2 separate regions of the Homo sapiens genome follow, and region 1 is linked to region 2. Evidence: fine-mapped expression QTL. A gene starts in region 2. The other region holds a variant in brackets. All regions are shown on one strand. Distances are between the middles of the regions. Region 1 overlaps MS4A5 (membrane spanning 4-domains A5). Region 2 holds the start of MS4A7 (membrane spanning 4-domains A7).

Evidence for each region. PIP is the estimated chance that this variant, and not a neighbour inherited with it, causes the effect. A credible set is the group of variants that fine-mapping cannot tell apart.
Region 1: its variant is the best candidate, but not a certain one, in a credible set for the expression of MS4A7 in left ventricle (GTEx, PIP 0.84).

The regions. Positions count from the first base shown.
Region 1 is chr11:60,437,693-60,442,089 of GRCh38, forward strand. The region is part of intron 4 of MS4A5 (membrane spanning 4-domains A5); the gene reads left to right. Among named protein-coding and RNA genes, the nearest start is that of MS4A5, 10 kb to the left of the region's middle. The variant G/C (reference allele first, on the strand shown) is at 2,590.
Region 2 is chr11:60,376,557-60,380,953 of GRCh38, forward strand. MS4A7 (membrane spanning 4-domains A7) reads left to right here and starts at 1,976. Exons shown (of 7, transcript NM_021201.5): 1 at 1,976-2,108. RefSeq lists enhancers at 1,008-1,247, 1,928-1,977.

The sequences.
Region 1 (4,397 bases), 61 kb after region 2:
TAAAGGGATCAATTCAACAAGAAGAGCTAACTATCCTGAATATATATGCACCCAATACAGGAGCACCAAGATTCATAAAGCAAGTCCTGAGTGACCTACAAAGAGACTTAGACTCCCACACATTAATAATGGGAGACTTTAACACCCCACTGTCAACATTAGACAGATCAACGAGACAGAAAGTCAACAAGGATACCCAGGAATTGAACTCAGCTCTGCACCAAGCAGACCTAATAGACATCTACAGAACTCTCCACGCCAAATCAACAGAATATACATTTTTTTCAGCACCACACCACACCTATTCCAAAATTGACCACATATTGGGAAGTAAAGCTCTCCTCAGCAAATGTAAAAGAACAGAAATTATAACAAACTATCTCTCAGACCACAGTGCAATCAAACTAGAACTCAGGATTAAGAATCTCACTCAAAACTGCTCAACTACATGGAAACAGAACAACCTGCTCCTGAATGACTACTGGGTACATAATGAAATGAAGGCAGAAATAAAGATGTTCTTTGAAACCAATGAGAACAAAGACACAACATATCAGAATCTCTGGGATGCATTCAAAGCAGGATGTAGAGGGAAATTTAAAGCACTAAATGCCCACAAGAGAAAGCAGGAAAGATCCAAAATTGACACCCTAACATCACAATTAAAAGAACTAGACAAGCAAGAGCAAACACATTCAAAAGCTAGCAGAAGCCAAGAAATAACTAAAATCAGAGCAGAACTGAAGGAAATAGAGACACAAAAAACTCTTCAAAAAATTAATGAATCCAGGAGCTGGTTTTTTGAAAGGATCAACAAAATTGATAGACTGCTAGCAAGACTAATAAAGAAAAAAAGAGAGAAGAATCAAATAGACGCAATAAAAAATGATAAAGGGGATGTCACCACCGATCCCACAGAAATACAAACGACCATCAGAGAATACTACAAACACCTCTACGCAAATAAACTAGAAAATCTAGAAGAAATGGATAAATTCCTCGACACATACACTGTCCCAAGACTAAACCAGGAAGAAGTTGAATCTCTGAATAGACCAATAACAGGAGCTGAAATTGTGGCAATAATCAATAGCTTACCAACCAAAAAGAGTCCAGGACCAGATGGATTCACAGCCGAATTATACCAGAGGTACAAGGAGGAACTGGTACCATTCCTTCTGAAACTATTCCAATCAATAGAAAAAGAGGGAATCCTCCCTAACTCATTTTATGAGGCCAGCATCATTCTGATACCAAAGCCGGGCAGAGACACAACCAAAAAAGAGAATTTTAGACCAATATCCTTGATGAACATTGATGCAAAAATCCTCAATAAAATACTGGCAAACTGAATCCAGCAGCACATCAAAAAGCTTATCCACCATGATCAAGTGGGCTTCATCCCTGGGATGCAAGGCTGGTTCAATATATACAAATCAATAAATGTAATCCAGCATATAAACAGAGCCAAAGACAAAAACCACATGATTATCTCAATAGATGCAGAAAAAGCCTTTGACAAAATTCAACAACCCTTCATGCTAAAAACTCTCAATAAATTAGGTATTGATAGGACGTATTTCAAAATAATAAGAGCTATCTATGACAAACCCACAGCCAATATCATACTGAATGGGCAAAAACTGGAAGCATTCCCTTTGAAAACTGGCACAAGACAGGGATGCCCTCTCTCACCACTCCTATTCAACATAGTGTTGGAAGTTCTGGCCAGGGCAATTAGGCAGGAGAAGGACATAAAGGGTATTCAATTAGGAAAAGAGGAAGTCAAATTGTCCCTGTTTGCAGATGACATGATTGTATATCTAGAAAACCCCATTGTCTCAGCCCAAAATCTCCTTAAGCTGATCAGCAACTTCAGCAAAGTCTCAGGATACAAAATCAATGTACAAAAATCACAAGCATTCTTATACACCAACAACAGACAAACAGAGAGCCAAATCATGAGTGAACTCCCATTCACAATTGCTTCAAAGAGAATAAAATACCTAGGAATCCAACTTACAAGGGATGTGAAGGACCTCTTCAAGGAGAACTACAAACCACTGCTCAAGGAAATAAAAGAGGATACAAACAAATGGAAGAACATTCCATGCTCATGGGTAGGAAGAATCAATATCGTGAAAATGGCCATACTGCCCAAGGTAATTTACAGATTCAATGCCATCCCCATCAAGCTACCAATGACTTTCTTCACAGAATTGGAAAAAACTATTTTAAAGTTCATATGGGACCAAAAAAGAGCCCACATCGCCAAGTCAATCCGAAGCCAAAAGAACAAAACTGGAGGCATCACACTACCTGACTTCAAACTATACTACAAGGCTACAGTCACCAAAACAGCATGGTACTGGTACCAAAACAGAGATATAGATCAATGGAACAGAACAGAGCCCTCAGAAATAACGCCGCATATCTACAACTATCTGATCTTTGACAAACCTGAGAAAAACAAGCAATGGGGAAAGGATTCCCTATTTAATAAATGGTGCTGGGAAAACTGGCTAGCCATATGTAGAAAGCTGAAACTGGATCCCTTCCTTACACCTTATACAAAAATCAATTCAAGAT[G/C]GATTAAAGACTTAAACGTTAGACCTAAAACCATAAAAACCCTAGAAGAAAACCTAGGCAATACCATTCAGGACATAGGCATGGGCAAGGACTTCATGTCTAAAACACCAAAAGCAATGGCAACAAAAGACAAAATTGACAAATGGGATCTAATTAAACTAAAGAGCTTCTGCACAGCAAAAGAAATCACCATCAGAGTGAACAGGCAAGCTACAAAATGGGAGAAAATTTTTGCAACCTACTCATCTGACAAAGGGCTAATATCTAGAATCTACAATGAACTCAAACAAATTTACAAGAAAAAAACAAACAACCCCATCAAAAAGTGGGTGAAGGACATGAACAGACACTTCTTAAAAGAAGACATTTATGCAGCCAAAAAACACATGAAAAAATGCTCACCATCACTGGCCATCAGAGAAATGCAAATCAAAACCACAATGAGATACCATCTCACACCAGTTAGAATGGCAATCATTAAAAAGTCAGGAAACAACAGGTGCTGGAGAGGATGTGGAGAAATAGGAACACTTTTACACTGTTGGTGGGACTGTAAACTAGTTCAACCATTGTGGAAGTCAGTGTGGCAATTCCTCAGGGATCTAGAACTGGAAATACCATTTGACCCAGCCATCCCATTACTGGGTATATACCCAAAGGACTATAAATCATGCTGCTATAAAGACACACGCACACGTATGTTTATTGCGGCATTATTCACAATAGCAAAGACTTGGAACCAACCCAAATGTCCAACAATGATAGGCTGGATTAAGAAAATGTGGCATATATACACCATGGAATACTATGCAGCCATAAAAAATGATGAGTTCATGTCCTTTGTAGGGACATGGATGAAATTGGAAATCATCATTCTCAGTAATCTATCGCAAGAACAAAAAACCAAACACCGCATATTCTCACTCATAGGTGGGAATTGAACAATGAGATCACATGGACACAGGAAGGGGAATATCACACTCTGGGAACTGTTATGGGGTGGAGGGAGGGGGGGAGGGATAGCATCGGGAGATATACCTAATGCTAGATGACGAGTTAGTGGGTGCAGGGCACCAGCATGGCACATGTATACATATGTAACTAACCTGCACAATGTGCACATGTACCCTAAAACTTAAAGTATAATAAAAAAAAAGAAAAAGAAAAAGGCCATTAAAAAAAAAAAGAAAAAAAAAGAAAGGAGATAAGCCAATAGTTTTCCAAGCTGACTTAGAAACTCGACAAAAAAAATGGGTATATCCTTACTATTTGTCAGCATAACCTACCTTCTCTTATTATCTGTCAGTCTGAAATACTCCTCAATAATAAAAATGTCAAGACTTGAAAAAAAAAAAGAAAGAAATGATAAACTTTAAAATACCTCAGGGAATATAAAATAAAAGAAAGTGAACTAGAAGATTTTCTGTGTAAAACTATTATGTACCCATAAAAATAGAAAATTAAAAAATTTAAAATTTTAAAAAAAGATGGTCCCAGTAAATAAGAGTTTAAAAAACAAAACACAACTGCATTCTGTTTACAAGAAACAGCTACACTAGTAACAAACAAATAGATTTAAGGCAAGAAGCATTGCTAAACGTATAATAGGGGACTTTCTATAATAAAAGGGTCGATTCACAAGAGAAATATTACATTTCTAGGTTTGAATGCTCCTAATAACAACTCAAAGCCAAAAGGAAAAGCTAACTCAGCTGAATGAGTAGAGAAAGCTAAAATCATCATAAGAAATTTTAGCACACATTTCTCAGCAACTGAAAGAATATGTAGACAGACCATAAAATTACAGA
Region 2 (4,397 bases):
TCTGGATAACCAGACCTTGTGCCCTAGCCCCAGCCCGTCATCTCCACTGCTAGAGAAAAAAAATACAGTTAGTCTGTCCAAGGCTGTTAGAGTCCTCCAACATATAAGACGCATTTCCATTTTACTAGCTTCATGGTCTGCTTGGGGTGGGGATGGCGGGGAGATCGTATCCTTGAAGTAGGCACTAGGACTGTGAGTCACTTGCCTGTCTAGAGCACCAGGACTGTTTGCAAAGGGCTGAGGAGATTTCCATCAATGGAAAAGAGCATGAATTTAGAGTAAACATAGATTACACTTAGAGATCAGAGATCAATCTAGAGATAAAATACACTTTTCTCTAAAGGGGGTGGGAGAAGATGTTGGACAAGAAATACCAGATTTTCTTAATGGTTCATTTATGTCAGGCTCTATGGTGGGGACTTTTATGTTATTTGACTTAATCCTCACAACAATTCTGAAAAATCTTTTTTCAAATTTTATGAGAAAGTGAACTGGATATTTAACTGATTTTCTCACGAATTCCTTCTGAGGCTCAGAAGTGTGAAAGAAGCCCAAATGACCAAGGTTCTTTAACAATTTGGTCAAAACAGGTCATAGACCCAGAGGAAGGTCTGGATCCTGGAAGTTTTCTTAAGCAAAGACAGTGCTTGTTGTGGATATGAAGATGTTGACTAAGCTGGGCACAGTGGCTCACACCTGTAATCCCAGCTTTGGGAGGCCAAGGCAGGTGGATCACCTGAGATCAGGAGTTCGAGACCAGCCTGACCAACATGGTGAAATCCTGTCTCTAGTAAAAATACAAAAATTAGACAGGCATGGTGGTGGGCACCCATAGTCCCAGCTACTGGGGAGGCTGAGGCAGGAGAATCACTTGAACCTGGGAGGTGGAGGTTACAGTGAGCTGAGACTGCACCATTGCACTCCAGCCTGAGCAACAAGAGCAAAAAACTCCATCTCAAAAAAAAAAAAAGATGTTGACCAAATGGCAGACTCTTGCCATGAAGCAAGCCCAGACCTCAGTGCCAAGAGATGTGAATTAGATTCCTGCCTCTTCCACAGACTAGACATGTGACTGGGGGCAGATTCCTTCAGCAATATCACCTCATTTGGAGAAGAACTGGACTAAAATACCCTCCAAGTAGTTTATGAGTTATTTAAATCTCCCAGGCTTAGGTTTGCTCCTCTCTTAGGGGATAGCCTTGCCACCCTTCAGGAAATGGAGACTGTATATGGAGCATGTTGTGCCGCCAGCTGCTGCATGTCCCAGAGCCATCTTAAACCCTACCCTTCTGAACAATGGCTAGTCTACAAGAAGCCTTAAAAGGGATGTGAAAGTGGCAACAGTGTCCCCTCAACAACAAATACTTCCCCAAATATGAGCTTGTGTGGAGCCTGATGACTCTGCCTCTGAGGCCAATCCACTGGCATCTTTCCCAAGATGTGCCTGGACTTCCCTGAGCATGAGGCCAAAGATGGAGAATGGAAACACCCAAAAGAAGTAACAAGGAGACACGGAATTTTCCACAGGTTGCTTTCAGCTTACCAAGAGCCTGGAAAGTGAGAGAATAGATTCTCCAAAATTCAAAACTAACATTACTATTATCAATATTTATTGTCTACTTTTTGTAAACTCTTTGCATCTTTTTTCTTTAATTCTCCCAACACCCACAGAGTGGAATTATTATTATCCATCCACCATTTATTTAATAGACAAGAAAACTCAGGCTAAGCAAAACTAGATGACTTAAATAATTCTATGTAGGAGTAGGGAAAATGAATTTTAACTGGGACCGTACAAATCACTAGTCTGCACAAAGGTCTTTTTCTCATGTGTCACTTCTATCTTGTGTCATTTTGCCAGACCTCAGAATTTAGAAAGAGGAAGCAGAGGCACTTTTTATATATCAACTGTCTGTAACTACAGCAAAATTCACATCCTGTGTAATCATAAATACTGCTCTAAGAAAGGGACAGGAAGTCTCAGAGGCTGGAGAGCAGAGCACCAAGATCGTTCTGGCAGGAACAGCCAGTGGGAGGTTCCAGCTGAGCGCTCCCCAGAGGTGAGCTGATCCCCAGCCACAGCACACAGGACCAGGCTGCGAGAACAGGTAGACACCTTGGTTTAGATCATGACTTTTGGGGAAGATTGTGTGCTTTTGAAAAGACAGCCAGGGAATTGGATTATCATCCTGTCTCTGATTCTGACCACCTGTGTGAGTTGGAGCGTCAGCTCAGTCCCCTTTTTGGGTCTCAGTTTACTCACTTGTCAAATAAGAAAATTGGGTAAAACCATTCTTAGGTTTCCCTCATTGAGGTGATTTTCCTCAATGTTCTGCATTCTCCTGGTGTGTCACTCAGTCTTACAGAGTCTACTCTCAACAAATACTGTGCAATTAGACTGAATCTTGCATTAGAACCCCATGGTCCTACTCTAATTCTGTAATACAGAAAATTGCTGGGCAGAGCTGTTGACCTCCATGTCATGATTTATCTTCAAAGCACGGATTTTAGAGCTGTCTTGAAAGCTGTGGGTCCCTCCAGTCTATCTCCTCAAGGCGAATGTGGAAGGACAAAGCATCCTCTCAGACTGTGGTGTTTGGAGATGATAGCATCAGTCTGGAGACTTTTGTGAAACATAAAGAATCTTGGTTATATAGGATTCCTTCTAAAAGTAGCAACGTGTATCTAAATTCAAGTGTCATAGATTTAAATGTAATAATTCCACTTCCATACATCACTGTGAGATAATTAAATGCAGGAGGTATCACAAAAGTGCAAAGATGTTCATTATTGCATTGTTCATAGTGGCAAAAAGAAAAAATAGAAACCACCTAAATAGTCATGAACATGTGATTGATTAAATGAATCTAGAGACCTCCATTTATTTAAATATACCATTTGGCTTTTTGGTTGTAGTAAAATATGCTTAAAATAATTGTAGCCTTTTAACCATGTGTTTTTTTGTTGTTTTTTGTTTGTTTGTTTGTTTGTTTTTTAATTGAGAAAGAGTTTTGCTCAGTCACCCAGGCTAGAGTGCGTGATCTCGGCTTACTGCAACCACTGTCTTCCAGGTTCAAGCGATTCTCCCATCTCAGCCTCCTGAGTAGCTGGGATTACAGGCACTCACCATCATGCCTGGCTAATTTTTGTATTTTTTTAGTAGAGACGGGGTTTCACCATGTTGGCCACGCTGGTCTTGAATTCCTGACCTCAGGTGATCTGCCCGCCTCGGCCTCCCAAAGTGCTAGGATTACAGGCATGAGCCGCTGCACCCAGCCTTAACCATTTTTAGGTGTACAGTTCAGTGGCATTAAGCACATTCACACCATTGTGCAACCATCACCACCACCCAACTCCAGAACTTTCTTGTCTTCCCAAACTGGAACTCCGTGCCCATTAAACAATAGCTTTCCATTCCCCTCTCCCGCCAGCCCCTGGCAACCACCATTCTACTTTCAGTGAATTTGACTCTTCTAGGTGCCTCACATAAGTAGAATCATACAATATTTGTCCTTTTGTGACTGGATTATTTCACTTGCCATATTGTCTTCAAGGTTCATCCATGTTGTGCCATGTATCAGAATCTATCATTTGCTTTTAAATTTAGGCTTTTTATTATTTCTATTCATCGGTCAAAGATGTCTACAGAATAATGTTGAGTACAAAAAGAACAGTTATAAAATGGCATGGATAGAATGACTATTTCCGTAGAATTGTGAATGTCTGTGAACATATATAAAGAGGAGAGAGATAAAGTGACAGATGGGAAGAGAGAATGTAAAGAATATGTGCATAGGAAACAAGAGTGATCGGGTGGCAGTTGAAAGTTAAGGAGCTAATTTGTTTTCTTCTTCAAACTGTATTCCCTTGTAATGGTGGTACTTTATGCACTCTTTCAAACAGAACAAACAGTTAAGAAATAACAAAGGAAAATAAATGTTCATGGTATCAGATAGGCTATAGCCTGAAAGTATCAATTAAACTTTCGAGTCCTAGCTTCAGGCTGAGAATCAAGCATTTTCTGCAGTCCTTAGGTATGAGATTCGAAAAATAAAGAAAGGAACCCAGAACTCAGGAGGCTGGTGACGAAGACTAGTAGGAAGGAGTCTAGTTGGTATATTTGGGCTATTGAGCCACACAGAGCAAGGTAAAAGCCAAGTTTCTACAACATGAAAGCAAGTTGGGAAAAAGAAATCTTCAACCTATATTCCCTAAGATCAGCAATGTCCCTGGGAGAGGATATGGAACTGATGAGTGGCAGCCAATGCTTCAACAATAGGGGAGGAAGAATAGAGAGGATGAGAATCAGTTGTAGCTAGCCGGGCAAGAACAAACCTACAGGGATATAGAAGAGCTCTGGTGTTAGATGGCCTGTGCCCAAATCTTGCCTCCACTAC